Linked DNA regions of Homo sapiens. The protein of the gene in region 4 interacts with the protein of the main gene of each other region in a pairwise test. Each region holds a gene or a part of one and is shown on either strand. Other genes may lie near its edges. The genes, in order: RNF152, FUNDC2, ANKRD46 and KIR2DL3.

Region 1 (7,024 bases), on a different chromosome or scaffold from region 4:
ACACTGGTCATCAAATAAAATAATTATAATCCTCTCTTTGCCTATTTCAAGTGCATGTTTACTCTGAAGTGAAAGGCCATTAGGTATTTTCAAGGCTGATTCTAGGAGGTTGTGAGCTTAGCATTATGTAATAGAGAGGTGTTACTTACAGACTTTCTCTTCCTCACCATCTGCCTCTTGTTTAAGGCTTCCTGAGTTTGTTTGGAACCGCCCAGGGTAGAAAAAGAGTGGCAATGGGCCTAGGGCCACCCAGGAGGTGGCCTCCTGCAGCAGAGACCACAGGGCAACAGATAAGATCTGAAGGGGGCAGGAATGTGTTTAGGGTAACCTTGGGTCACCCTTTTGTTACTTTGATGTTTAGAAAAAGCAATTTGGGCAAGAGGCTTTTTCTGGTCACAGGACTAGTAGAACACCCAGAGAGTTTAGGGACATTTGTGCTTCCATCAGCAACTGTATTGACTAGGAGGGTGGTGAGTTCTAAAGCCTTCCTTGCCTCACTCTCCCTAAAAAGAGTTGGATGCTATGGAATAGGCATTGCAAGGTGCTCTGGATTCAGCAGTTGGTGGCTTGCAGAGATTTTGCTTTGGGAAGAGCTGTTCACTCATATATCTTTGTTCACATTGTGATAACGGCATGCACGGGTGAGCCATTTTAAAGATTTGATAAATACCTTAAGCATAAGTGTAGAATTTAACAAAATAATATTGCTTTTGGTTCAGTAATCACCTTGGCAAAGTCATTTTTATAAAGATAGCTCTCCAAATAAGGAAGTGGTGTGGTAAACTATGTTAGTCTCCAAGTCACAGTGACTGAGGGGATATCAGTATCAACCTAGGGAGGTTGAGACCACCCGGCTTCATTCAAGTGATAAGATGTAGCACCCAAAGCGTTTCTGAATTGGGAGATGAGCAGCTTGGAGACCAGCAGGAAGAACCAGATATAGACCATCCAAAAACCCATTCAGGGTGCCTGGGGTTGGGCTGAGGGCCAGGCACAGACTGAGGGAGAAGGAAAATGAAAGCCCCGAGGGACTAGTCTTGAACTATATTTGGGAAGCCCCAAAATGCATTTCTATATTTTCTCTGGCCTCTGGGTCCCTACCACTTTAATTTCATACCCAAGTCGGCTGGTCAGGTAGAGGACTCTTGTGGCATGAAAGTGGTTTCTGGCACTGCCCATTGTGACGTCATGGAAACCGGAAAGGAAGAAGGTGTTGGTTTTCCTGCTTCTTTTCCCATGGCTTCGAGAGTTACACTGTGTGATCCAGCAGTCTGACTCCATGATTGAAATCACAATTGGGATAAAGTTGGTAGAGATGCTTCTTAATTTACAGTGGGGTTATATCCTCATAAACCCCTCATAAGTTAAAAATATTGTAAGTGGAAAATGCATTTAATACACCTACTGACATCATAGCTCAGCCTTGTCTGCCTTAACTGTGCCCAGAAATGCGCATTAGCCTACAATGGGGGCAAAATCATGTAACAAGAAGCCTATTTTGTATTAAAGCATCAAATATCTCATGTAGTTTATTGAATACTGTATTGAAAGTGAAAAACAGATTGGTCGTATAGGCACTCAAAGTACGGTTTCTACTGAATGTGTATTGTTTTCACACCATTGTAAAGTCAAAAAATCAAAGGTCATAGGTCAAACAGTTGTAAGTAGGGAACCGTCTGTGCTTGTTACATGCTTAGGGATTTTCAATTTCTAATTGACTCACTGTCATTGTAGGATTTAAAGAGGGAGACCTCAAATAGTGTATCTGTGACCTGCATCTCCTTTGGGTGGTTCTTGATGTCCATGATTTCTTGGCCTAGATCACGTTTGGCTGCTAAGGCCTGGACTACGTTCTTCGTGGAGTTGTGAGGGGGCTGCTTGTGATCGCCTAGGAGTGGAGAGGATGCCTTATTTACCCCTTGATATACTAATGCCTGCATAAATAAAACTCATTGCAAACATCCTGCATGATGAAACTTACTCAAACATCACATAGACTTCCTGGTTACCTGCCTTTCATGCAAAGGAGGGGCTGAGCAAATGAAGATGTGCTGCTGGTGGGAGCAAAGTTATGAGGAAGTAGAATCTCCAAATGCTGTGTTCTGTGCTTGTATTTTCTCTTTCTACAACCTCCTCTCCCCTGCCACTATCGCATTCCCACCTACCAAGGAAGTGTAACTTTCCCGGCTCAGTTCTGATCTAGACATCCAGATAATCACACTTGGTGCACTCCTCACTGAGGTTTGACAAGAATTGAAGAGATTTTGGTAAAAGCTTTGACAGATACTGTAGAAATAGGGAGCATTCTTTTTTTTTTTTTTTTTTTTGAGATGGAGTCTCACTCTGTCACCCAGGCTGGAGTGCAGTGGGGCATGATCTCAGCTCACTGTAACCTCTGCCTCCTGGGTTCAAACTATTCTCCTGCCTCAGCCTCTCGAGTAGCTGGGATTACTGGGATAATTTTTTCTATTTTTAGTAGAGACAGGGTTTCATCATGTTGGCCAGGCTGGTCTTGAACTCCTGACCTCGTGATCCACCCGCCTTGGGCTCCCAAAATGCTGGAATTACAGGCGTGAGCCACCGCACCTAGCCAGGAGCATTCTTCTTACTATTGCTGTTTCTGCTCCTTGACAGATTCACTTAGTGACAGTTGCCACTGCCGCATCTTAGTCAAGAACCTTGTTTCTCTCTGGGCTATGACAATGGTCTTGCTCACTTTCTGGCTTTCCCACCCCACTCCAGTTTGGAAAATGCTGTCACTCTTAGACCATTAGGCCAATTAATCCTTCATCCCCTCACTTAATAACTTTTAGTTGCCCTTGTGGGAGGAAGCTCATATTCTTCAGTTTTGCTTTTCAAGTTTTCCCCAGGTTGACCCCAAACTTCCTTTCCAACCTCGACTTTTGCTCCGCCTGACTTTAAAACTGAACATTAGCTGGGATGGTTAATCCACTGTTGCCCAAAATGTTTTTCATTGCCTCTTTCTTATTCTAGCACATTCTGTGGCCTAAAATGTCCTCTTCCTTCCTCTGCCTCTATCCTATCATCGAAGCCTCAGTTCAGCTCTCAACTCTTCTGAAAAATTTAACTTGATCACATTAGCCTTTAGAAATTCTTTATAATCCAAAGTTCTCTGGCAAAATTGCCTCCATCTCTCATTTCATTCAACATTCATTCATTCATTCTACAAAGGCCACTTGTCATAGATTGTCTTGTATTATCACCTACGATTGAAGTGTCTTTTTCTTTCTGTTTAATTGCAAAGAATAGAAATTCACTCAAGCTTGTTTGCATAAAGGGAGGTGAATTGAAGAGATGTCCCAGGATGTCTTGTCATCAAGCCACATTTCCCAAGAGTTCCAGTGAATGGGACCCTTCCAGTTATCATTCACCCTGGACCTGCTTAGTGCAGGAGAGGGTTGGGGGCACAGTTCCTTCCAAGGGGGCCTGTGGCTGGCTGATGTAGCAGTTGTGACCTGCAATTAGCCTACAATGGGGGCAAAATCATGTAACAAAAAGCCTATTTTGTATTAAAGCATCAAATATCTCATGTAGTTTATTGAATACTGTATTGAAAGTGAAAAACAGATTGGTTGTATAGGCACTCAAAGAGATCTCAGTTCTCTTGCAAGCTCCTTAAAGATGACTGGATGAGGCTTTACACCATTGTGTGTTTGCCACCGTGTTTGTACACAGGAAGGGCTCAATAAACAAATCATTGGTGACTCTTTGACAACACAGAAAACGATTTTGACTTACAGTGATTTAAAGGAATTTTAGACCCTTTTAGCTTGAAGTCTTAAAGGAAGTTAAGAAGATAGAAACTTATTTTTAAGAGCTTCCCCTACTTGCATTAATAATGATTAAATGTTGAATCAAATTAGAATGACCAGGCTGCAGTACGTATACCAATGTTTGGGAGGTGAATGTTCTCAATGAGGGTCATGATTCTAACAAAATTAGTTGTTACTCAAAGCCTGTTTTTCAACTTCCATTTGCCTCCTACTTTGCCCACAAAAAAAAAAAAAAAAAAAAAAAAAAAAGAAAGCAAAAGAAAGCAAAAGAAAAAAAACCTCTACTTGGTGACATACAACAAGCAGCTTTAGGACTTTACAGCCTACCAGACCACCCCACAATCTAACGGAGCAGGCATTGATGCCTGGATTTGTGATGACTGGGTGTAGTTGCCCACCGCTGACTGCCCCACCTGCGTTTATAATTAAAGGCTTCAATACCTTTGTGATATACATCTGTTTTACCTCCCTTTTTTTGATTTTGGAATACTCATTCACATGATAGAAACTCTTCTTTGATACTCAAAATGCTTGATCATTATGAGAGTGTTATTATGAAAGAGGGAAATATGTTCAGCTGCTTGAAGAAAATGACCAGAAATACATTAATATTAAAATAACGCTCTCGGCTGGGCGTGGTGGCTCACGCCTGTAATTCCAGCACTTTGGGAGGCTGAGGCGGGTGGATTACTTGAGGTCAGGAGTTTGAGACCAGCCTGGCCAACATGGTGAAATCCCATCTCTACTAAAAATACAAAAATTATCCAAGCATGATGGTGTGCACCTGTAATCCCAGCTACTTGGGAGGCTGAGGCAGGAGAATTGCCTGAACCTGGGAGGCAGAAGTTGCAGTGAGTTGAGATCGCACCACTGCACTCCAGCCTGGGCAAAAGACCGAGGCTCTGTCTCAAACAAACAAACAAAACACTCTCAGTTTGAAAGGTAGTGAATAGGGCTGAGATAAGTGTCTCAGGAACCAAGTATTTGTTGTGATATTCTTTTGCAGTTGTGTTGTTCTGGGGTAGGTTTGCAAATTGCTTCCTCGAAGATTAATAATATGAGATTAGAAGTGGTTGGTGAGCACATGGACAAATTTGTGTACTTTGGAGAATTTACCCCTTTTGTTGCATGAGACATAAGATTACTGCCATTTTAAGTGAGTAATAGTTAATTCAACCATGCAGGTAAAGAGGTGTCCTTAACTGGGATAAATAGTCCATCCACTCCACTCCTTTACATTGGTACTTCAGAAACTGAAGGTACAGATCCATCCATTCACCTATGGTGGTGTGTAAAATAGCATTTGAAACACTGAGCATCAGGTATTTAAACCACTTATTAGGCAAACAATTGCATTCATTAAATGTATTTTGAATGGCCAGGCATGGTGACTCACGCCTGTAATCCCAGCACTTTGGGAGGCTGAGGCAGGCAGATCACCTGAAGTCAGGAGTTCAAGACCAGCCTGGCCAACATGGAGAAACCCCGTCTCTACTAAAAGATACAAATTAGGCAGGCATGGTGGTGGGCACCTGTAATCCTAGCTACTCTGGAGGCTGAGGCAGGAAGAATTGCTTGAACCTGAGAGGTGGAGGTTGCAGTGAGCTGAGATTGTGCCACTGCACTCCAGCCTGGGCGACAGAATGAGACTGTCTCAAACAAACAAACAAACAAAAGAATGTTGAATGCCTATGTTTTACCAGGCATAATTCTAAAAAAATCCCTGCCTTCTAGCTTCCTGTAGGTATTTAACTCATAATTAATTTGGTTTTCTGCTTTTTTTTTTTTTTGTAATGGCAAAGCTAAAAGGGTAGAGAATAAAAGAAATGTATCTGATATTCTCTCAATTCTTGATACCTTAGCATATATGCCTGCCTTACATGGCTCTAATTCAGGTAAGTCATTATGAACTGGAATTTTAAAAAGTAAGATGGGTTTGGGTTTAAATTTCACGTCTGCCACGTGACCTGAGTGCACAAGGTCTGACTGAGTTTGTTCTTCAGCTGCAAAATGGGGGAGAACCGACCTCATTGAGTTAGTGTAAGAACAGGAGAGACTTACATATAAAGTGCTTAGTGTGTTGCCCTCCACAATGTAAGACTAAATAAATGGCAGCTGTTGCTAACGTCCTTATATCCAGCATCTACCATCCACCAATCATTGGGCTCAGTTCTGGAAATATCGGGATGAATAGGCATGGTCTAACCTGAAGAAGCCCTTAAGCTAGCCAAGGAGGTGATGGCATCCAAGTAACTACAGCCTTCAGCGTTTACATGGGAGTTTCTTTTACCTGTCATTATTGTCAGAGTCTTTGGTTTGAAAGTCTGTAAAGCTTTCAGTGGCTCTGAGTTTAAAATGATAGGCCTTCTCAGGAGGAAGTGGGGAAAAAGCTGGAAGCAACTGGAGGAGAGGAGTCTGAGAAAGGGTTCTGAGCTAGCCCCCAGGCAACCTGAGTCTTCCTTAAAGGAGATGAGTCGCCTTTCTCCTGTGGCCTCACTCTTCCCAAGTGAAATGAAGGACATCCTCTTTCTCAGGGTCTGCTTTCTTGGGAGTAGAGTGACCCCCAGACTTGCCCATGACTAAGAGCATACCTGGGTCATGGAACTTTCCGTTTTAAAACAGTCCCAGAAAAATTGGGATGAGCTGGTCACCCTCCAGTCTTGTTCTGTGATTGTTGTTTGACATCCTGAAGCAGGCTTTGTAGAGATCTAACATTGTTAGTAGAGATACAACCATCCTACAAGAGAGGAGCAAGCGGGGCAGAATAAAATGGGAAAAAACATTGTAGCCTTGTCAACCCCTTTATTTAGGAATCTGCTTTTTGGAATGGGATATTTATTATTATTAAAAAGAAGAGAACTGTTTAATAAAGGCAAGGAATCTAGGCTATACAATATAAATATAAAGTTAATGAAACCTTTTAGAAATTCTTCTTAAAAAGGGGTAGCCGCTTGGGGCCCGGTACACAGTAGACACTCAGTAAAGACTTATTGAAATGGTGGCATCAATTTATTCTTCAGAAATATTTTTGAAAGCTGCATAGAGAAGTGCAAGAGGCCTCTGAGACATGCATTCCAGGACAGGTTGAGGGGCTGAACACTGTGGGCTTTGAACCAGTCTGCGCCTCACTCTTCTGGGCCCTTCCATCACTCATTTGAAAATGCATGCATCTAGATATGCTCTGGGTTTCCTGTGCTGGTATCTGAGTGTGTTTATGTATGAGCTGATGC
Region 2 (7,024 bases), on a different chromosome or scaffold from region 4:
TACCTAAGTTACAGTAATCAAAACAGCATGATAATGGCACCTAGATCAATTTGGCAGTACAAAGAGCTCAAAAACATATAGTCAACTGATTTTCAACATAGGTGTAAAGACAATTCAGTGGAGAAAAAGACAGTCTTTTTTTTACAAATGTGGGGACAACTAGATACCCATACGCAAAAAAAACTTGGATTCCTACCTTATACTATATACAAAAAGTAAATCAAAATGGATCACAGAACTAAATATAAAATCCGAACCTATATACAATCTAGAAAAAGCGAGAGAAAATCTTGGTGACCCTGGATTAGGCAAATATTCTCAGACATGACACCAAAAGCTGGAGCTACAAAAGAGCTGCACTTCAAGATTAAGAACTTCTGCTCTTTGAAAGGTACAGTTCAGATAATGAAAAGCTACAGAGAAGTAATATATTTGCAAATCACATATCTAAGACTTCTATCCAGAATATTTAAAGAACTCTCACGATTCAGCAGTGAAAGAAAACCAACAACCCAATAAAAATATGTGGAAAAAGATTTGAACAAATAAGTCATCAAAGATATATGAATGGCAAAAAATAAGCCCGTGAAAATGCTCAACATCATTAGTCATTAGAGAAACGCAAATTCAAACCACAATGAGATACAACTTCATACCCACTAAGATGTTCGTAATCAAAAAGATAATACCAAGTGTTAGTAAGGATGCAGAGGAACTGGAACCCTCACACATTGCTGGTGGAGATGTAAGATGGTACAGGCACTTTAAAAACTGGCAGGTACTTGTAAATTTAGAACATTCACTTACTACGTGACTCAGCCATACTATTCCTAGATATTTACCCAAAAGAAATGAAAGCATATGTTCATACAAAGACTTGTACACTTGTATACAAACTTGAAGTTTTATCTGTAACAGCTAAAAAGTGAAAAAAAAACTCAAATGTCCATCAAAGGTGGATGGAGAAACAGATTGTGGTACATCCATACAATGGAGTACTACTTAGCAATAAAAAGGAATGAACTGTTGATAAACAGAAAAGCACAGATTATCTCAAAATTATTATGGTGAAGGCTGATGCAGGAGAACTGCTTGAACCCAGGAGGCGGTGAGCCAAGATCGTGCCACTGCACTCCAGTCTGGGCAACAGAGCAAGACTCCGTCTCAAAACAAAAAAATATATTATTATGGTGAATAAGAGAAGCCAGACAAAAAAGAATATATACTATGTAATTCCACTTCTAAAAAGAATCTAGAAAACATAATCTATAGTAATAGAAAGCAGATCAGTGGCGGGAGGATGGCATGAAGGAAAGAGCGTGGAATTACAAAGAGGTACAAAGCAGCTTTTGAAGTGATAGGTATGTTCATTATCTTGACTGTGGTGATGGTTTTATGGGCATGTACATATGTAAAAATGTATCAAATTTTATACTTTAAATATGTGCAACTTATAATATACCTATTTATTAAATTTAAAAACTAAGAGATAAAGAAAATAGCCAAGATGTTCCTAAAGAACAAGATAGCAGACACACACATATGCATGCGCACACACACTCACATAAAGCAGCGGGGAAAGGGATAGCTTTCACAATAAATTAAGTTGGGACAAATGGGTATTCCACATGGGGAAGAAAAGAAGGAATCTACCACATACTGAGCACAATAACAATTCCAGGTGGATAATAAATCTAAATGTGAAAGGTCAAATAATAAAAGTTCTGAAACATGGGGTAGGCAAAGATTACTTAAATAAGCCACAAAAATCACTAACCATTAAGGTTAAGATTGATAAAATTGACTATATTAAAAATAAGATCTTCAGTTCATCAAAAGATACCATAAAACGAAAAGATAACCACAGAATGAGTGAAAATATCTATAATACACACAACTAACAAAGGACTGAGAATATTCAGAATATATAAAGAACTCTTACAGCTTAACAAGGGAAAGAATGACAACTTCAGAGGAAAAAAACTAGAGTGGAACTGAAAGAGGAGATCCAAATGGTCAACAAACATACGTAAAAGTCGATCAATGTCACTCCTACTCAGGGAAATGTAAATGAAGCCACCATGAAATACTACTACCTAACTACCAGACTGGTAAAATTTTTATAGTCTGGATTTAACTTGATTACCTCGCTAAGGAAAAATTAACTAATTTTTTAAAAATTTAATAGCCTGGCAAAATCAAGTGCCACCATGTAGAACAACAGGTTCATTTGGTCCTTGCTGGGACTGTAAACTGTTAAAAACAGTTTTGGAAGGTGGTTTGACATTATTTAGTGAAGCTGAAGATACCTATACCCATTACCTAGCAATTTCTAGGTACAGACCCTACAGAAATGTATGCACATATACACTGGGAAATCTAATACTCATATAAGCATAGTATTAGCCAAAAATGGAAACAACTCCAATATCAGTCATCAACTGGATATACTGTGGTATATTCACATAATGGAACTCAAAATACAAGTGAAAGTGAAGAAACTACAACTATACACAATGTAGTTGAATATATGAAACATCAGGTTGAGCGAAAAAAGCAAGACTCAAAAGAATACATACTGATTGCATTTACTTTAAGGTGGAAAGCAGGTAAACCACAGTATGTTATTTAGTGACATAACTGGTGTTAAAACTACAAAGAAAAGCAATGAAATAACTGCTTAATAACCTCTCGAGTTTCTAGGGCGCTAGCCACGTTTTTTTTAACCTTAGCAGTTGTTACATAGGTGTTCACTCCAAGTATTTGCTAAAATGTACACCTGTTAAATGTGCTGTTCTATATTTGCTATATGGTGCTATAAAATTTTTCAAATGTAAAGAGTCTATGAGATTAATGGATTCAATATTCACCTATGAAATTTGCTATTACTTTTTGAATTTATTACAAATGAAACCATAAGCTGTGTCACATTAAGTTATCATCTGACATAGCTAATAAGTAGTTAGCTCCTTATTCTACCAGTTACCAGCTATGTGGCCTTGGGCAAACTAACCTTTCTGAGCCTCAGTTTCTATAAAATGAGGATAGAAAATAACAGTACTAATTCCAGAGTTGTGAGAAGGAAATGAGATATCTATGTAAATACTTCAAACAGAACCTGGCATATAGGAAACAATCATTATGTGTAACCATTAAATGGTACTTTAAGATGATGTTTAGATACATGCTCCACATTAAGTGACCAATTTCACAGAAGCCAATGTGTTTTCACTGGTTAAAGGAGATGATGGTACCTATAACTGCAATACTAAATCATGCACAAAAGACAGTGGACATCTTTCACATCACTTACCATCCAGTGACACCTCCAATGAACAGCTGGGTTGCCACGCTATACTTTTCTGCTGAAGGTCCAGATTCCTGCCCGAACAGCTTACGCCACCATGGCTGCTTCTTAGCAAATTCCGCAAGGTCCAGTGACTCAAAATTTCCCTCAAAGTTTCCTACAAGAAGTAATACGTTAAATAAGAAAATATTTACTTTTATACCTAACTAGATTGAGATATTTAAAGAAACAGACATAAATGTAATAAGAAACCTCCAAATATTCTATTTTAAATAGTAAATTTATTCTAAGTTGCAATTTTGGAAAATCAGACTAAAATCAGCAAATACTAATGTCTATATTACAGGGAAAAACCTAGAAAATCTCAAATTAGTCCTCTAGTTTGTCCTCTCAAATTTAAAAATAACAAAAAAGGCTGGGCGCGGTGGCTCACGCCTGTAATCCCAGCACTTTGGGAGGCCGAGGTGGGCGAATCACCTGAGGTCAGGAGATCGAAACCAGTCTGGCCAAAATGGCAAAACCCCATCTCTACTACAAATACAAAAATTAGCCAGGCGTGGTGGCAGGCACCTGTAATCCCAGCTACTCAGGAGGCTAAGGCAAAAGAATTGCTTGAACCCAGGAAGCAAAGGTTGCAGTGAGCCGAGATAGTGCCGCTGCACTCCAGCCTGGGCAACAGAGCAAGACTCCATCTCAAATAAATAAATAAATCCAAAAAGACCTATAAAAAACTGCCAGTAATGCATCCCAAATGAAACAAATTTGCCCCTTCTCTTCAGAAGTAGCTCAATGCTATTCAGTAATCCACAAATTTTCTAAGTACTACGTGGATCTCCAGTGATAATGAAGATGAGAGGGTAATGTTTAATTGAGCTCTTACTATTTACCAGGCAATGTGCTAAACATTAATCATGTACATCTAATTAATCCACAGAATAAGGTAGGTACTACTTATTAACTCAATTTTATAATTAAGAAATGAAGGCCAGGCATGGTGGCTCACACCTGTAATCCCAGCACTTTGGGAGGCCGGAGGCAGGTGGATCACCTGAGGTCGGGAGTTCAAGACCAACCTGACCAGCATGGAAAAACCCCATCTCTACTAAAAATACAAAATTAGCCGGGGGTGGTGGCACATGCCTGTAATCCTAGCTACTCGGGAGGAGAATCACTTGAACCTGAGGGGCAGAGGTTGCGGTGAGCCAAGATCGCACCACTGCACTCTAGCCTGCGCAACAAGAATGAGACTCCATCTCAAAAAAAAAAAAAAAAAAAAAAAGAAGGCACCAGGCGTGGTGGCTCACGCCTGTAATCCCAACACCTTGGGAGGCCAAGGTGGGCAGATCACCTGAGGTCAGGAGTTTGAGGCCAGCCTGGCCAACATGGTGAAACCTCGTCTCTACTAAAACTACAAAAATTAGCTGGGCATGGTGGCATGCGCCTGTAATCACAGCTACTTGGGAGGCTGAGGCAGGAGAATCACTGGAACCGGGGAGGTGGAGGTGGCAGTGAGCCGAGATCGCGCCACTTCACTCCAGCCTGGGCAACAAGAGTGAAACTCCGTCTCAGAAAAAAAAAAAAAATGAAATGAAGGTTCCAAAGTTAAATGATTTGCCCAAGCATGGAGAAAGACTTAACAAAATGTCAATCCCTTTCTCTGTGGGAAGATAATGTCAGGCTCCCCTACTATACCCAGCCCTGTTTCCCTGGAAACACACCGCACTAAGAAATGTCTGATATGAAATGTCAGCAATGTACTATTCAAAGCTGTTTACTGTAAAATTGACCTCAAATGATCAACTTCATCTGGCATGGAGTGTGTACAATCTTTTCACACATAATGTAACAAACAATAGAAAATGACTACTACCCATGCAAAGGCAAAGCCATATAAAGGAAACAAAATTTGTTTAAATAAAAGAAATAGAAGCAGGCCAGGCACGGTGGCTCACGCCTGTATCCCAGCACTTTGGAAAGCCTGGGGGACGGATCACTTGAAGTCTGGAGTTCAAGACCAGCCTGGCCAACATGGTGAAACCCTGTTTCTACTAAAAATACAAAAATTAGCTGGGCGTGGTGGCATGTGCCTGTAGTCCCAGCTACTCGGGAGGCTGGGACAGGAAAATCACTTGAACGCGGGTAGCGAAGGTTGCAGTGAGCCAAGGATCGCACCACTGCACTCCAGCATGGGTGACACAGCGAGACTCAGTCCCAAAAAGAAAAAAGAAAAAGAAACAGAAACAGAAACAGAACCAGTGATGATCAAGATGCTGAAGTAAGCAAATAACAATGATCAAAAACTGCTCAAAAGATTAAACATATATGTAATTGGAGTTCCAGAAGATTAGAAAGAATGGGATAGAAGTAATATTCAAAGAGGTACACAAAAGTTATTCAGGCCGACAAGAAATGATGCCACATGGAAATATGGAAATGCAGAAAGGAATGAGACACTGGAATGGGCAAATAGGTGGATAAATCTAAATGAATACTTACTGTAAAAAAATAATAATTACAGAAATTTTATACTTTAAAATCAAAGAAAAAAATCAGAATAAAAAGTAGAAAATAGGGGCTGGGCGTGGTGGCTCATGCCTATAATCCAAGCACTTTGGGAGGCCGAGGCGGGTGGATCACCTGAGGTCAGGAGTTCGAGACCAGCCTGGCCAACATGGTAAAACCCCGTCTCTACTAAAAATACCAAAAATTAGCCGGGCATAGTGGCAGGCGCCTGTAATCCCAGCTACTCAGGAGGCTGAGATGGGAGAATTGCTTGAACCTGGGAGGCGGAGGTTGCAGTGAGCCGAGATCAGACCACTGCCCATTTTCCTGGGCAACAAGAGCGAAACTCCATCTCAAAAAAAAAAAAAAAAAAAGTAGAAAATAGGAATAGAAAGGGATTTCTTCAATCTGATATAGGACATCTATGAAAAATATACAACTAACATCATACTTAATGGTGAAATATGGAACACTTTTCTTTCCCTAAAATCTATTCAACTGTTTTTTGTTTTGTTTTGAGACAGGGTCTCACTCTATCACCCACATTGGAGTGCAGTGGCACTATCACAGATTACTGCAACTTCAAACTTCTGGGCTCAAGCAATCCTCCCACCTCAGCCTCCCCAGTAGCTGGACTACAGCTGTGCACCACTATGACCAACTGATTTTTTTTTTTTTTTTTTTTTTTTTGTAGACAGGAGGTCTCACTTTGTTGCCTAGGCTGGTCTGGAACTCCTGGCCCCAAGTGATCCTCCCTCCTTAGCCTCCCAAAGTGCTGGGATTACAAGTGTGAGCCACCTCGCCCAGCACTGTACTGGAGTTCCTAGCCAGTGCAACAAAAGAAAAGAAATAAAAGTCAAAGAGATTAGAAAGGAGGTACAACAATAATTCTGTCTTCATTGGCAGATAATATAACGGTGTATATAGAAAACCCAGAAAAATCTACAAAAAGGTACCAGAAGCAAGGTCACACATTATAAGACCAATATTAAAAAGTCATTTGAATTTTTGTGTATTAGAAATGATGAATTGGAAAACAAAATAATTTTAATTGCAAAAATTATGTTGTAGTAAATTCAATGAAAGATGCACAAGACCTGTTCACTGTAAACTAGAAAACACTGCAAACTACAAAACACTGCCAAGAAATTGAAGATGACCTAAAATAACAGTGATATACTGTTTATGTTTTGCAAGACTCAATATTTTTAAGAT
Region 3 (7,024 bases), on a different chromosome or scaffold from region 4:
ATTCCTACCCCATTTTGTCCTGCAGAAACAAAAGCATTTACTGTCTTATTCAGATTTAGGGGCATTATGGCATCAATAAATTAGGGCAGTGTGTAACTGTAATTTAAAGGTCAAGCTCAGTTTTACAGGTGACTTGACATCGTTCCCACTCAAAAAGCAGAGTATCACTAAAACAAACAAAAAGCCCCATGACTTCCTCAAATTGTTCAGTCTAAAAAGGATCCTGGACTCCCGGGAGATTATGAAGCTCACATGGTGCGTTACATGACAGAAGGCACACAAGCGTTAGAGTCAGCGGAACTAGGTTCAAATTCCAGCTCTGTCCCTTATAAGCTGTGACCTTTTCAAATCCTCTATAAACTGTGTGAACTTTGTCCAATCCTTTTTTGTCTTCACTATCTAATCTGTAAAATGAAAACACCTATTGTGAGAGCTCTTCATTCTGAGGACTAAATGAGCTAACAAGTAAACACAGTCTAGCTCATAGATTTTCAACAAATGTTCTTTTCTTCTTCTTCCCTTGTTGTAACACTACATAATTAGTAGCAGAAACTACCTACTATTTTCATAGAAAAAAATATGCTGCTTTAGCAAAAATCTAGAAGTCAGCCCCTCATTCCCTCACTTGCCTAACAGGATTACACTGTCTTCAATGCTTTCTGAACTTATTTCAACTGATTAATGAGGAAACAAAACCAACAGACCCAAGATAAGATTATCAGTTGAGAGATTAATGGGAAGAAATGACTAGACTTCTAAAACAACAGAGAACTTACCAAATATCAATTTTGAGTCCATTGGAAACCAAAAATTGGATAGTATCCACATGGCCACAGAGGTGAAGAGCTGTGTTTCCTTGATAATCTGTGGCCAGAAGATCGGCACCGAATTTATGCAGTAACTGGCAGATGTCTACATTCCCTCGAGCTGCTGCAAGGTGAAGGCCTGTTCTGCCCCTGCTGTCACGAATATTTGGGTCAAAGCCACTTTCCAAAAGCCGCTTGGAATAATTAAAGTCCCCATCAATACAGGCTTGCAGCAAGGGCACGTTAGTCTGAGAAGAATCATTTACAAAAACATACGACATTGTTCTGATGTGGTGGATGGAACACGCCTGTAATGAAATAGGTGAGTGAGATTCCATGAAGACAAATGAAATCAAGACAAAGGAGTCATTTAGAAAAGCAATATTTCTCATCCTTTTTGGCCTCCTGCCTCTAATAAATAAATGACCAAACAGAAACAACAACAAAGTTATCAATTGTATTTTATTTTCCATTAAAACATTTTATTTTCTTCACATCTGCTGGATTAAAATTCCAATTCAATTACTGTAAAGCTCTATTTTGCTTTTCACCATGTAAAAAGATTAAGAGATATTTTTAAAGTTAAGCAAGACATAATAGCTTAGATTTAAGTATTACATTGTCAGAACACATAGATAACATGGTGTTTAAACATCAAAGAACTACCCATATATAAATGCTACTGCTGGTAGACATTCTTATTTAATACAAACTAATTCTCTTTGATATATTTGCTTCTTCTTGTATTTGAGATATTCTACATGGTAACTAAAACTACTTGCATGAAAAGAACTTATACTCAACAAAGACCTGTAGAGTGTTATGTTTATAGCACAATTTTTTTTTTTTGAGATGGTGTCTCGCTCTATTGCCCAGGCTGGAGTGCAGTGGCGCGGTCTTGGCTCACTGCAACCTCCATCTCCCGAGTTCAAGCGATTCTCCTGCCTCAGCCTCCCAAGTAGCTGGAATTACAGGTGTCTGCCACCATGCTCAGCTAATTTTTTGTATTTTTAGTAGAGACGGGGTTTCACCATGTTGGCCAGGCTGGTCTTGAACTCCTGACCTCATGATCCGCCTGCCTTGGCCTTGCAAAAAGTGCTGGGACTACAGGCGTGAGCCACCGCGCCTGGCCTATAGCACAAATTTTAAGAGAAAGGCTAAGGAATGTAACAAACTGAATTTAAAAATCAGAGCATGAAATCAATTCAGATTATGCTTTTTCCACTATTGATCTTATTCTGCTGTGCTCTGTGGTTATCTCAATATGTGACTGTGCCAAATTCCCACCGTCCAAAGACTGAGAGATGAGGGGAAAAAAAAGTAGGGCTGTCTGGGAATACCAAGTCAGGACAAAGCAGCAATCCCAACTAGGTCTGATGTGAATTTCATCTCTTGGACTCATCCAGCTCACCAGTTTGCCCACATCTCTTTCACAGATGTTTCCTGGCCCCACTGGCGCACCTGAACTCAGGTGAGAGTTCAGCATCTGCCTGGTGCACCTGAACTCTCAGGACATTTTGCTCTACCAAACTGCATACAACTAGGTCTCTCTCTCTTCCCCTAGGTTCATTTAAGAAAGAGTTAAAGCCTGTCAAAAGAAACTTCGCTAGGAAATTGACGAGAAAACAAACAAGAAAACAGAAAGGCAGAGACCAATGCTTTTCTAGAGATGGCTTTTTTATTCTTAGGTTACAAAAGCTTAGTCACATATGGACTTGGCTTATACAGCTGATCAGGTAAAGTCTCTTTCTGAAACACTGATGGAACTGGACGCTAGACCCATCTATTCTTGTGCCTAACCTCAAGGGGATTCAGGGAAGCCTGGCTGCTGAGTTTGGTGAGATTGCTGCCCCTATTCCTTTCAACTTGGCTTCTCAGCAGAGCCATTGTCCCAAAATCTGGGGCTGCCTTACACAAGGGCTCTGCTGCTACCATGGGCTCTCTGTGGAAAGAGTGGGCATTAACATACACTGAGACTTGTTCTGAGCCAGGTACCAACTAGGAGCTTTTAATGAATTTAATTTAATCTTCCTAACAACTCCACAGTTAGGCTTTTTTATACCTGAATTTCAGTGAGGAGCCACTGAAGGATTTTTTTTGTTTTAAATTGAGACAGGTTCTTGCTCTGTCACCCAGGCTGGAGTGCGGTGGTACAATCATGGCTCACTGCAGCCTCAAACTCCTGGGTTCAAGCAATCCTCCCACATCAGCCTCCTAAATAGCTGGGACTACTATTTCAATGAGTCCAGCCCACTGAAGAATTTTAAGTCAAAGAAATGGCACAGTCTTATTAGTCTTTCAGAAAGATGACTTGGATGGCAATATGGAGGCACTGGATTGTAGAGACAAAGACTGGAGGCAGGGAGATCAATCATTAGGTCATTGCAGCTATCTAGGCAAGAAATGAAAACCTGACCTAAGGCAGTGGCAGGCAGAAGGGGACGCACTGGAGAGGAACAGAGAAGACAGAATTAGCACAACTTAATGACTCACTGGATATGAAATGAAGGGTGAAAAGGGGCTGTTAAGAATAATTTCAAATACGAAAAAAAGTTTATGATTAAAAACTACAGAGATTAAAATCAAAATAAACTTCAGATTATGATACATATGATGACTTTTTAAAAATCTGGCTGGACACAGTGGCTCACACCTGTAATCCCAGTACTTTGGAAGGCCAAAATGGGAGGATAGCTTGAAGCCCAGGAGTTCGAAACTAGCCTGGGCAACATAGCGAGAGACCCTGTCTCTATAAAATATTTTAAAATTAGCCAGGCATGGTGGCGCGCGCCTTTCGTCCCACCTGTTCGGGACGCTGAGGTGAGAGGATCACTTGAGCCCGGGAGGTCGAGGTTGCGATGAGCTGTGATTGAGCCACAGCACTCCAGCCTGGGCATCAAAGTGAGGCCTGTCTCAAAAAAACAAACCAAACCAAACCAAACCAAACCAACAAACAGAAAAACTCAATGAGAAGAATTTACTCAATAAAATAGTCAAGAATTCTTTTGCGAGGGTAATCTAAATATTTTCCCTTACAGCAAGGGTGTCCAACATTTCGGCTTCCCTGGGTCACAATGGAAGAAGAATTGTCTTGGGCTACACATAAAATACATAATGATAGCTGATAAGCTTTAAAAAATTGCAAAAAAAATCTCAGAATGTTTTTTAAAAGTTTATGAATTTGTGTTGGGCTACATTCAAAGCTGTTCTGGGCTGCAGGTTGGACAAGCTTGCACAGTATTGAATCATAAAAATGGAAAAGCTATCATAAACCTTTTTCAAAATGAAATGCCACATATCAAGTGCTTTTCAAAAGGTAATGTGTTTTGGTTAAATTTTTAAAAATAGATAATTTAAAAAATCTAGTTGGTGTTTTTGATTCAGACACAGTAAGAATTCTTGTGGTTTGCAGACTAGGATACTTCTGAGTGTTGGCTCAGCAAGAAATACAAGTCTCTGTGTCTATTTTTCAGGTGAGAACAAGTGTGTATTTTGTCAGTTTCTCTGTGTCCCTGAGCAACTACTAAACTTAATCCCACATTTAATAAGCCCAATGATAGTTATTTTTCATCTTGATCACAGAACTGAATCTGTCCTAAAGCAGTTCACTGAAGGTTTCACATCTTGTGAGGAAGTCCACAGTAGTAAATACTCACGTAAGCCTTAAGATTAGATCTTTTCGTTCAGTGGTCACTCAGCAGTTTCTCTGAATTCTCAAGAAGGTTCAACAAAAATATTCTGTAATGTGCTGGCAAGGATCTACAGTAAATAGAAAATTAAGTTATAATAGAAGTGTGGTGAGAAAAAGAACTCACTGTTCTATTAAATACAGACAGGTTACTGAGCCTGAAGAAATTCTCTAGAAAATCTGTAGGTGAGGCATCAACTTGTGAGGCCAGAAAAATATCTGACGAGTAACAAAGTAGTGAAAAGGAAGCAAAGAAGGGCTTAATAGAAGCTGCTCTGTGGCCCACAAACAAGAAAGCAAGACAGAAAGATAAAAGAATAAGAATCAAATTATGTGCCATCACTAAAGAACAAATTGGGCTCCGAAAATTCACTCTCAGTCATTACTTGGAATTCAGAATGCATATTTTTCACATTATAAATGGAGGCTAGATCCCAGATTAGTCCACAAAAGCATTTTTATAAATAAAATACTATTCATAGTGGGAAAAAATAAGTTTAAAAAGCCAATACTTATATTTAAACCAAACAGGATACATTTAAGAAAAAGTATTTCTAATCTACCTTGAATGCTGGTACTTAAATCTCTTTAAATCTGTTCCCTTCCTTGTCTTTTCAGTGTGAAATAAAAGCTGGCCCAAGTCTATCTGTAGTCTTCTTTACATAGCCTGACGCTGCTCCCCCACCCAGGCTGCACTTCTCTGCACTGAGAGAGACTACGAGGGCACCCTGTCTGCCCACTCAGCTCTTCTCTGGAAGGACCGTGGAAGCAGGGTCATGGGCAGGCAGTAAGGACCACAAAAATAGCAATATTAGTTCATGAAACAAACATTCACTGTGTGCCTGCAATGTGCCAGATACCATGCTATCAAGTCCAAATCCCAAATTCCTGGTCAGGGTGAAATACAGGTTAACTTTTTACCGATCATCCTTGTTCATTGTTATCAAATCCCTGTGAACAAATTTATATAGGGAAATAATTAATGGTATTTTACAAAGCTCCATTTACAATATGTAAGTCAGGTTGTATCATAAAGGCTATCAGTGCTAGGCTGGAACTGATGACAATAGCTGACAAACTGTACCTGAGGACCAGTCCCACACGAGGGTCAGTAAATATCACGAAGACATGATAACACACAAAACATCTACGCTCCTCATTTCCTACTTCTTTTGTGATACCACAGTATCAATTTAGACGAACTTCATATCACGGAGCCACTTACCTTGATTTCCTTAAACAAATATTATGTATTCACCCAAAGCCTAATATTTTTCCTCTCTTGTCCTGACCTCTAGAGCTGAGTCTTTAACGACTAGAGCCTGTCTCTAATGTATGATTTGGCTTTAATTTTCAATGTTAATTAAAATGGTGCAAGTGGGTTATTCTGGATGTGGTAGAGCTCACATTAGGGAAAAAGAAAAAATTTTGTTTTTCATCTAGAGATGGAATTATAGTTCATATGGTCATGCCCCCAAATAATCCTAATGTTCTCTTAAATCCACAAGAAGGACAATGCTTCTGCAATTTTTTCTTTTTTTATTTTTGAGACAGAGTCTCACTCTGTCGCTGGTGCCGGAGTGCAGTGGTGCAATCTCGACTCACCTGCAGAGGCCTCCGCGTTCAAGCAATTATCCTGCCTCAGCCTCCCCAGTAGCTGGGACTACAGCCATGTGCCACCATGCCTGGGTAATTTTTGTATTTTTAGTGGAGATGAGGTTTCACCATGTTGGCTAGGCAGGTCTTGAACTCCTGACCTCAGGTGATCCACCCACCTTGGCCTCCCAAAGTGCTGGGATTACAGGCGTGAGCCACCGCAACCAGCCTGCCATTTTCTTTGGATATTACAATGGCCCATAAGAAAATACACTTGAACAAATTACAGATTTGTATGATTTCATAATAATATTATACAAATTCATTAGACTAAATTACTAGAAACCTGCCAAGAAAACTTCCAAGACCTCAGTTAGACCTTACTCACTAGACTCTGTTAATAGCTTCCCTAAGAAGTCATAAAGTGAATACAAATCAGAGCACATATTTAACGATTGTCCAATGGGTGAAGAGGACTAAAGACTTTTTTAAATTAAACTTTTTGAGATAATTATAAATTCATATGCAGTTGTAAGAAATAACACAGAGTGATCCTGTGCACCCTTTATCCAGTTTCCCCCAATGGTAACATCTTGCCAAACTATAGTACAACATCACAACCAGGATACTGACATTGATATAGTCAAGATACAGAACATTTCCATCACCATGAAAAATCTCTCATATGTTGCCCTTTTTAGCTATTCCTGCTTCCCTCCCATGCCAGTCTCTCCTTAACACCTAGAAAACACTACCTAGTCTTCCACTTCTTTAATTCTGTCATTTCAAGAATGTTGTATAAATGGAGCCATACAGCACATACAGGAACCTTTTGGGATTGGTCTTTTCACTCAGTATAATTCTCTGGAGATTCATCCAGGGTAGCTGTGTGTATCCATAGTTTGTCCCTTTTTTATCCATAGTAGTATTCCGT
Region 4 (7,909 bases):
CCATGCCTGTGCCTTCTCCATGGTGCCAGCTTCCATAGGCTGGCTCCTGGTGCTGGTTGGAGGAGTATCAACCCCTCCCTATGTGGATGGAGCCTGGTGGTGGCATCATCATCCCACCCTTGCTGATCTCAGGGTAGCCAACCTTCTCCTTGTTTGGTTTCTTTAATTAATTAATTAATTATGGAGACAGAGTCTCACTCCTTCACCCAGGCTGGAGTGAAGTGGTGTGGTCTAGGCTCACTGCAACCTCTGTCTCCTGGGTTCAAGTGATTCTCCTGCCCTCAGCCTCCTGAGTCGCTAGGATTACATGCACCTGCCACCATGCCTGGCTTTCCTTGGGTTGTTTCTTAACTTGTCCTTGACCTGGGTTCCAGTGTTGGTTTCCTGTTGCTGCTGTAGAAAATTATCAGAAGCATGGCAGCAGGAGAGACCACACTGACACCTTCCAGTACTGGAGACAGAAATTGGACCCTATTTTTCCTGGGCTAAAATCAAGGCATCTGCAGGGCTTTGTTCCCTCTGGAGACTCTGGAGAATCAGTTCCTTGACTTTTCCAGCCTCTATAGGCCACCTGCATTCATGGATCTTGGCCTTCCTCCACCTTCAAAGCTGGTGAAGACTTCCACTGGACTGCTCTAATCCCCACTCCCCTCTTCCTCCTCCTTTCATGTGCACCCTTGTGATTACACTGAGCCCAGTGGGACAGTCCAGGCTGTCTCCCCATGAGCTCCATCTTCCCCTTCAGTCCCTTCCCCTATAACATAAATAGTCACAGACTCCAGGGATTAGAATGTAGTCATCACTGGGGACAATTATTCTTCCCACCACAGCACCCATTTCCCTGTATTCAATCCCCCTTTACCACAAATACAGTCAGGGCCTGCGTGATGGGACCCTCAAGGACATGCCCAACAGAAGCTCTGGGATTCAGGAGGTGGGACAAGGAGAATCCAAGACAGGAGCCCTCTGACCTATGACCACGATCACCAGGGGGTTGCTGGGTGCTGACCACCCACTGGGGGAGTGTGTGTGTGAACCCCGACATCTGTATGTCCCTGTGTGTGCGGGGGTCACAGGGCCCATGAAAAGGCTGTTCCAGAATATTCTGTTGTAGAGCTCAGGGACAGGCACCCCACCTTCCTTTTACAGACTGAAGTTGTTAAACCCAAGATAAGAGTGACACCGAAGAATGACATGTCCTAGAGGCACCACAAGGCTGGGCCAGGCAGACAGCAAGGGCTTGTCCTGACCACCTTGGGGAGAAGGAGGCGCCGCCTTAGAGAGGAGGATGTGGAACTGCCCTTCCCTCCCTGTGCTCAGAAGATTCTCCTCGCTTTCCACGTTTCTATGGCTACTATCACACCTTGGTGCCCAGGGCTGAAGGAAGGACCCATCCCGCAAAGACATGGTGTCTCCCTACAACAAAAGCCTCAGCTGAGAACTTTGAGCAAGTGCTGAGTAAAGAGACTCCTACTAGATTTTAATACTGTAAGATTACTCACATAAAACAACACAGGGTAGACATGAGGTGGAGGGCATGTCCTTTGTGAATGGATATCAGCGGATGCCTGAACGAAAATAAACAACTGAGCCCCCATCAGAGGATTTGGAATGTCAGGGCCATGGCTGTGGTTTCCCACCTCTTCTGGTAGAATGACAGCAGCCACACTGCAGCCCCTACCATCATGGAAACGCTGAAGTGTGTGAGTAACACCTTTGTCCTCAGAGGATCTGCTGTTCCTACCACTTCCCAACCACACACCCCAGCTTTGAGCACCCCAGTCTAACCCTGGTCCCCACAGAACTTGACTCTGCCAAGGGGTTGAGAGGCCAGGGAGGCGAGGTCAGAAATGTGGGCTGAGCACCCCAGGGTCCTCTCTTCCTAGTTTATGAGAGACTCCCCGACAGGACTTCCCTCCTGTTTCAGGAAAATCCTCTTATGTGGGGAGATGACACCCGAAGGTTTGGAGAAGGACTCACCCTCATGTGGCCAGGCCCCCTGCAGCAAGAAGAACCCTGGAAAGAAAGATCATGATGGACCATCCATCTGCAGGCAAACCAGGCCTCCCTTGCTGCCCCCACTGGGCTGTGAGTCTTGGCAGCCAGGCCCTTCCTGGGCTGAAGTTAAACTCACCCTCAGTGCCTACCTGCACCCAAGAACAGGGCTGTCGGCTGTGCAGAGACCCAGTTTCCAGGCCCATATCCCCACCCCAAGCCCATATCTCCACTCCAGGCTGATATTTCCACCCTAGGCCCATATCGCCAATCCAGGCTCAGATCTCCACCCTAGGCCCCTATCTCCAATCCAGTCCCATATCTCCGCCCCAGGCCCAGATCTCCACCCTAAGCCCATATCTCCACTCCAGGCCCATATCACCTCTCCAGTCCCATATCTCCACACCCAGGCCCATATCTCCTTCCTAGGCCCATATCTCCACTCCAGGCCCAGATATCCACCTCTAGGCCCATAACTCCACTCCTGGCCCATATCTCCACTCCAGGCCCATATCTCTACTGCAGGCCCGTATCTCCACCTCCAGACCCATATCTCCACTCCAGGCCCATATCTCCACCTCCAGGCCCATATCTCCACCTCCAGGCCCATATCTCCACTCCAGGCCCATATCTCCACTCCAGGCCCATATCTCCACTCCAGGCCCCTATCTCTACTGCAGGCCCATATCTCCATCTCCAGGCCCATATCTCCATCTCCAGGCCCATGTCTCCACTACAAGCCCATATCTCTACTGCAGGCCCATATCTCAACCTCCAGGCCCATATCTCCACTCCAGGCCCAGATCTCCACTCCAGGCCCAGATCTCCACTTCTAGGCCCATCACTCCATCTCTAGGCCCATAACTCCACTTCCAGGCCTATATCTCCAACTCTGGGCCCCGATCTCCATCCCCGCACTCCCTCCCTCGATGCCCTTCCAGGACTCACCAACACACACCATGCTGACGACCATGAGCGACATGGTGCTGTCTGTGCAGACAGGCGGCCGCGCCCCAGCTCAGCTCAGCAGCGCACAGGATGTTATTTGGCGCCCTGCCCATGCAGTTTACATGTTGACCACATCATGGGAGGGTGACGTACGCAGGCTCTTTCTACCTTGCATGAGGCCCAGTGGGTGCTCGCTCAAGAGCGGAACATGGCTTCCTGGAAATTGTTCTCACTAGAATTGACACCTTGCGTCCTTCACTACGACCAGACTCAAAAGACGTCTCAGATCCAACCTCTCATACACGAGATGATTGAATTCTGTGCTTACATTAAAGATTTTTGATGTATTTTTGTTTTTATCTGAGATTCAAACTCTTCTTCATATGTAATGTGCAAAATGTCTAACAGGTATTATTAACATTATCAGAGTAATTGTGACAAGAAGCCATTCTAATTTTCCTGCTTGAGTTTCTACTACTAAACCAGAGGCATCAGAATAGCTTGAACCTGGGAGACGGAGGTTGCAGTGAGCTGAGCTCAAGCCACTGAACTCCAGCTTGGGTGACAGAGGAAGAGTCTGTCTCAAGAAAAAAAAAAAAAGCAAACTAAATAACCTATAATAACAAATCAGAGGACTCAGGTTACCAAATTTTAAGGGGTTCTATAAGTTTATATAAAATGCAGCATCCTCATGAGAGGGGATACAGAGAACCACTGGACAGAAAACTGTGTCTAAAATACATCTGTGGATACACAGTCCCTTTATAGTTGACAAAGGCTGCCATGTAGTTTAAGGTGGAATAGAATATTTTCTCAACAAATAACACAGGACCATAGGGTTACACGTAGGAAAAAATAAATCTAAACTTATCCTCACACTATAAAAACACTTCTTATTTTTTATCTTGTTGTTGTAAATTTTTTATGCTTTATTTTTAAGATTGACAAATAAAAATTATATACCATGGTCCTTCACTATACCTGGGTGATTGGTTCCAGGATCCCCATTCAGATACCAAAATCTGCAGATGCTCAAGCCCCTTGCATGAAATGGCATAGTGAAGCTGGGCACCGTGGCTCACGCCTGTAATCCCAGCACTTTGGGAGGCTGAGCTGGGTAGATCACAAGGTCAGGAGTTCAAGACCAGCTGGTCCAACATTCTGAAACCCCATCTCTACTAAAAATATACACACAAAAAAATTTATCTGTGCATGGTGGCACGTGCCTGTAATCCTAGGGGAGGCTACTGGGGAGGCTGAGGGAAGAGAATCGCTTGAACCTGGAAGGCGGAGGTTGCAGTGAGTTGAGATCACGCCACTGCACTCCAGCCTGGGTGAGAGAGTGAGACTGTCTCAAAAAAAAAAAAAAAATAGCATAGCAATTGCATAGAACCCATGCACATCCTCCTGTATACATGAAATCATCTCTTGATTACTTATAATTCCTGACACAGCCTACACGCCACTCAATTTGTGTCGATTCAACATAGTTTTTTGCTTTTTGAAACTTCGGGGATTTTTTTTCTCAAAATATTTTTGATTTATTGCTGATTCAATAAACATGTGTAAACCCCAGAGATATGGAGGAGTGACTGTCTATTTATAGTAGTATGAAAGATGATGTGTTGATACGTGTCCCTGTGGAGATGAGACTAACAAGGCCTATGACTCTACAAATGTTTCATCGTGGAATGACTCTGCCAGCTTTCCAGATCTGCAGAGAGTAAGAATATCACTTGTTCATCTGATTCACCATCCTTGGAACCTCCTATGTGCTGCATCTTTGGATGGAAATTGGAGTCTCAGAGACAATTCAGGCTCCACCATGCTTCCAGAAGCTCAGAGTCCAGGGCTGAGAACCCAGCGGAGAACAGATGGGGTTATGTGGACGTGGTAATGATAACACCGGAAGCCTTAGGCAAGAAAAGAGTCCCATTGAAGAAACCATGAGGGCAGACATGTTTACTTGAAGAATAGAAAACTACATTGAAATTATAAAAAAAATTTATAAGTTTTACTGCTGACAGAAGGCTGAAAGATACTCTGAGGAAAGGTGGAATAGCACGTATCTAAGTGCCGTGTTAAGAGGGAGCCTCTTATATGTTTGGAATTGTGAGTTCCTCAGTGTGATCGCAGCCTCAAGTAGACTAGGAAGTAAGCCAGTTAGGTTGGAGAGGTGGGCAGGGGTCAAGTGAAATGGAGAATTGTGGGCTAAGCAAGTGTGTTTTCTCTCCAGCAGGCAGTGGGGACCTTAGACATTTGTAAGCAAGAGAGAGGCATGTTCAGATTCGTGGTGTGAGGAAGAGCGATGCCCTAAGATGCAGACTCACGCCTTCAGAGTCCAGCTGCTGGTACATGGGAGCTGGCAACCCGGTTTTGAGACAGGGCTATTGTCTCCCTAGAAGATCCCATCAAGGCCTGACTGTGGTGCTAGTGGACAGAAGACAACTTTGGATCTGCGCTCAGCATTTGGAAGTTCCGTGTTACACGCTGGTATCTGTTGGGGGTGTCTTGGGCCTCTGAGAAGGGCGAGTGATTTTTCTCTGTGTGAAAACGCAGTGATTCAACTGTGCGTATGTCACCTCCTGAGGGTCTTGTTCATCAGAGTCCTGGAGGGAGGGAAATGCTGAGTGAGGGAGGGTGCTCACATTTTCCAGGACTCTTTGGGAATAAGACTAGCCACGAGGCTGGGCGGAGGAGCACCTACCTCCCTGTTCACTGTTCTGTTCCCTGCAGGCTCTTGGTCCATTACAACAGCATCTGTAGAAGACGGAAGTCGTCAAAACAGCTCGGAGGGCACTTCTGGGTCCTCATTTCATAAGCAGATACCAACATACAGGGGGAGGCCATAGGTGCCTGAGGTCCCTCAGTTGCCAACAGCAGACTCAGACATTCTATCTCTCTGAGCTCAAGGATCCATCCCATGTATAGCTCTGAGTTCCCATCCTATTGATTCTGTGTCCCACTTTCTGCCTGTCATGGAACCTTCTCCTGGATGTGAGTGGCTGCAGGGGATGTGAGGATACGGTTCAGAATCAGGCAATGGTCTGTGAGCTGAAGGCAGAGGCAGGGAGTCTGGTGCTCTCTCTAGAAAGTCCTGCCTCTGTGGCTCCTGCCTTGGGCCAGGGACCATCCAGTCTGTGAGGAACACACACCTGAGTGCTCCCATCCTGCTTCCCCACATGGCCCTGAGCTCTCTGGCTTCTGCTTCGTGAGACTTACTCTTTTTGTTGGCACACCAGCGATGAAGGAGAAAGAAGAGGAGGATAGCAAAGGGGATGATGACCACTGAGGTCCCAATCAGAACGTGCAGGTTTCTGGAGTTACCTGGAGGAAGACAAGACACCAATAAGAAGCTAATCATAGCAGTTCCTCTATATGAATTGTCTCACATTTCTTGATTGACAGGTAACCACATACAACGTCTCTTTAGGACAAGCACCCAGATGGCGGGAGACCTAGCTTCCTCCTGCTTTCTCAGTTGTAGTAACCATAGAACGTGCTGAGGATACAACTGCTTTAGTTTAGATGTTTGACCCCTTCAAACCTCACATTGAAATGTAACCCCCAGAGTGGGAGGTTGGGCCTCTTGGGAGTTGTTTGGGTCATGGAGGTGGATCCATCATGAACAGATCAATGCTGTTCCAAGGAGACGGGGTTAGCAAGTTCCCCCTCTATTAGTTCCTGGAGAACTGGTTGTTAAAAGAGCTTGGAAGCTCCATCGCTCCCCCTCCCCCTTGGTCCCTCTCTTGCCGTGTGATCTCTGTGGTCTCTGCACAGACAGACCCTCCTTCCCTTCTGCCAGAGTGGGAGCAGCCTGAGGCCGTCACAAGAAATAGATGCTGGTGCCATGCTTCCAGTACAGCCTGCAGAACTGTGAGGCAAACACATTTCTTGTCTTTAGAAGTTACCCAGGCTCAAGTGTTCCTTTAGAGCAACAAAAATGGACTAAGACAGCAACGTCCTGAGATCAGGAGGAACATCCCAGAACAGCCTGGGCTGTCTTCCTGTTCTTCCTGGAGGAGGACGTCATGCAGTGCTTTAGCTGAGTGCTTCCTGTGGCTCCAGGGTACAAAACCCAGGCTGGGCTGCTTTTTGATTTCCCCCAGATACACTGCATATGGGGTGACTCCACATGTCTCGAGCAGCTTTTCTGAGCCTTGAGGGACTGGCTCACATTGAAATGTAGGTTTCTGTTGTCACTCGCTGCTTATCTGTTAGTAATGAACCTGCCTGTGTAATGTGTTCTCTGTGTGTTCTGTCTCCCTGGAGTGACGGTGAGTGATAGGAATTGGTATAGGCCCAGGTGCATTCCAGGAGGTGTTTAGAATCTTCTCTGGGAAGACTGGATTGGGATTGATACACAGCGAATGTGCTTTACAGTTTCTACCACCACAACCCTCTTGACTCAAAAAAATTACATTCTCCAAGAAAAGAAAGAAAAAATGAAATCAAGATAAAAAAAGTGAAGTAGAACTGACTTAAATCAAACAGCCATGAAATAATGATGTAGCCCAGGAACAACATGCTACTTTTTGTGATCTGCTGAGACATATATTAGGCTGCTATTCCACCCGAGAAGCACGGGGAAGGACCGCCCTCTCCGTCGTTTATTGTTTCAATACAGCCTGTCCTTCTGTGAGTTAGTACGAAATGTGACCAGGGGCTAGTGCTGGCACTGGTCTCTGAGTCCAAGATCTGAGCTCACTCCAAAGAGTATTAGTGTTTACCTCCCCATGATCTATCTGTATCTCCATAGGTGATTGGAAGTAGAGATGAATTGGGGGATTTGGGTGAAGGGGCAAGTTTTATGCCATGAACAGAGCACGTTCTCTATTCCAGGACCTGTGCTGGTGGGTTCAGGAGGCTTTCACATTTTCCATATGATCCCAAGCTCACAGAAAGCCAAATAAGGAAGAGGTTTAACCTGATTGTTTAATGGATAAGATAAAGGGTCAAAGAATTA

Evidence for each region.
Region 1: the proteins of KIR2DL3 (region 4) and RNF152 interact in binary tests that used the Homo sapiens proteins (3 or more experiments, as listed by UniProt).
Region 2: the proteins of KIR2DL3 (region 4) and FUNDC2 interact in binary tests that used the Homo sapiens proteins (3 or more experiments, as listed by UniProt).
Region 3: the proteins of KIR2DL3 (region 4) and ANKRD46 interact in binary tests that used the Homo sapiens proteins (3 or more experiments, as listed by UniProt).

The regions. Positions count from the first base shown.
Region 1 is NC_000018.10:61,883,005-61,890,028, reverse strand, and holds part of RNF152 (E3 ubiquitin-protein ligase RNF152), read left to right. Parts: intron 1-7,024. UniProt on the Homo sapiens protein: E3 ubiquitin-protein ligase that acts as a negative regulator of mTORC1 signaling by mediating ubiquitination of RagA/RRAGA and RHEB.
Region 2 is NC_000023.11:155,029,843-155,036,866, reverse strand, and holds part of FUNDC2 (FUN14 domain-containing protein 2), read right to left. Parts: intron 3,465-7,024; coding exon 3,314-3,464; intron 1-3,313. UniProt on the Homo sapiens protein: Binds directly and specifically 1,2-Diacyl-sn-glycero-3-phospho-(1'-myo-inositol-3',4',5'-bisphosphate) (PIP3) leading to the recruitment of PIP3 to mitochondria and may play a role in the regulation of the platelet activation via AKT/GSK3B/cGMP signaling pathways.
Region 3 is NC_000008.11:100,528,747-100,535,770, forward strand, and holds part of ANKRD46 (ankyrin repeat domain-containing protein 46), read right to left. Parts: intron 4,566-7,024; 5' UTR 4,463-4,565; intron 3,715-4,462; exon of another isoform or gene 3,610-3,714; intron 1,115-3,609; 5' UTR 1,088-1,114; coding exon 777-1,087; intron 1-776.
Region 4 is NC_000019.10:54,733,614-54,741,522, reverse strand, and holds the start of KIR2DL3 (killer cell immunoglobulin-like receptor 2DL3 precursor), read right to left. Parts: upstream 3,011-7,909; 5' UTR 2,978-3,010; coding exon 2,944-2,977; intron 2,017-2,943; coding exon 1,981-2,016; intron 1-1,980. Other genes in the region: KIR3DL3 (killer cell immunoglobulin-like receptor 3DL3 precursor), read right to left, coding at 5,427-5,552, 5,651-5,703, 6,166-6,270. UniProt on the Homo sapiens protein: Receptor on natural killer (NK) cells for HLA-C alleles (HLA-Cw1, HLA-Cw3 and HLA-Cw7). Inhibits the activity of NK cells thus preventing cell lysis.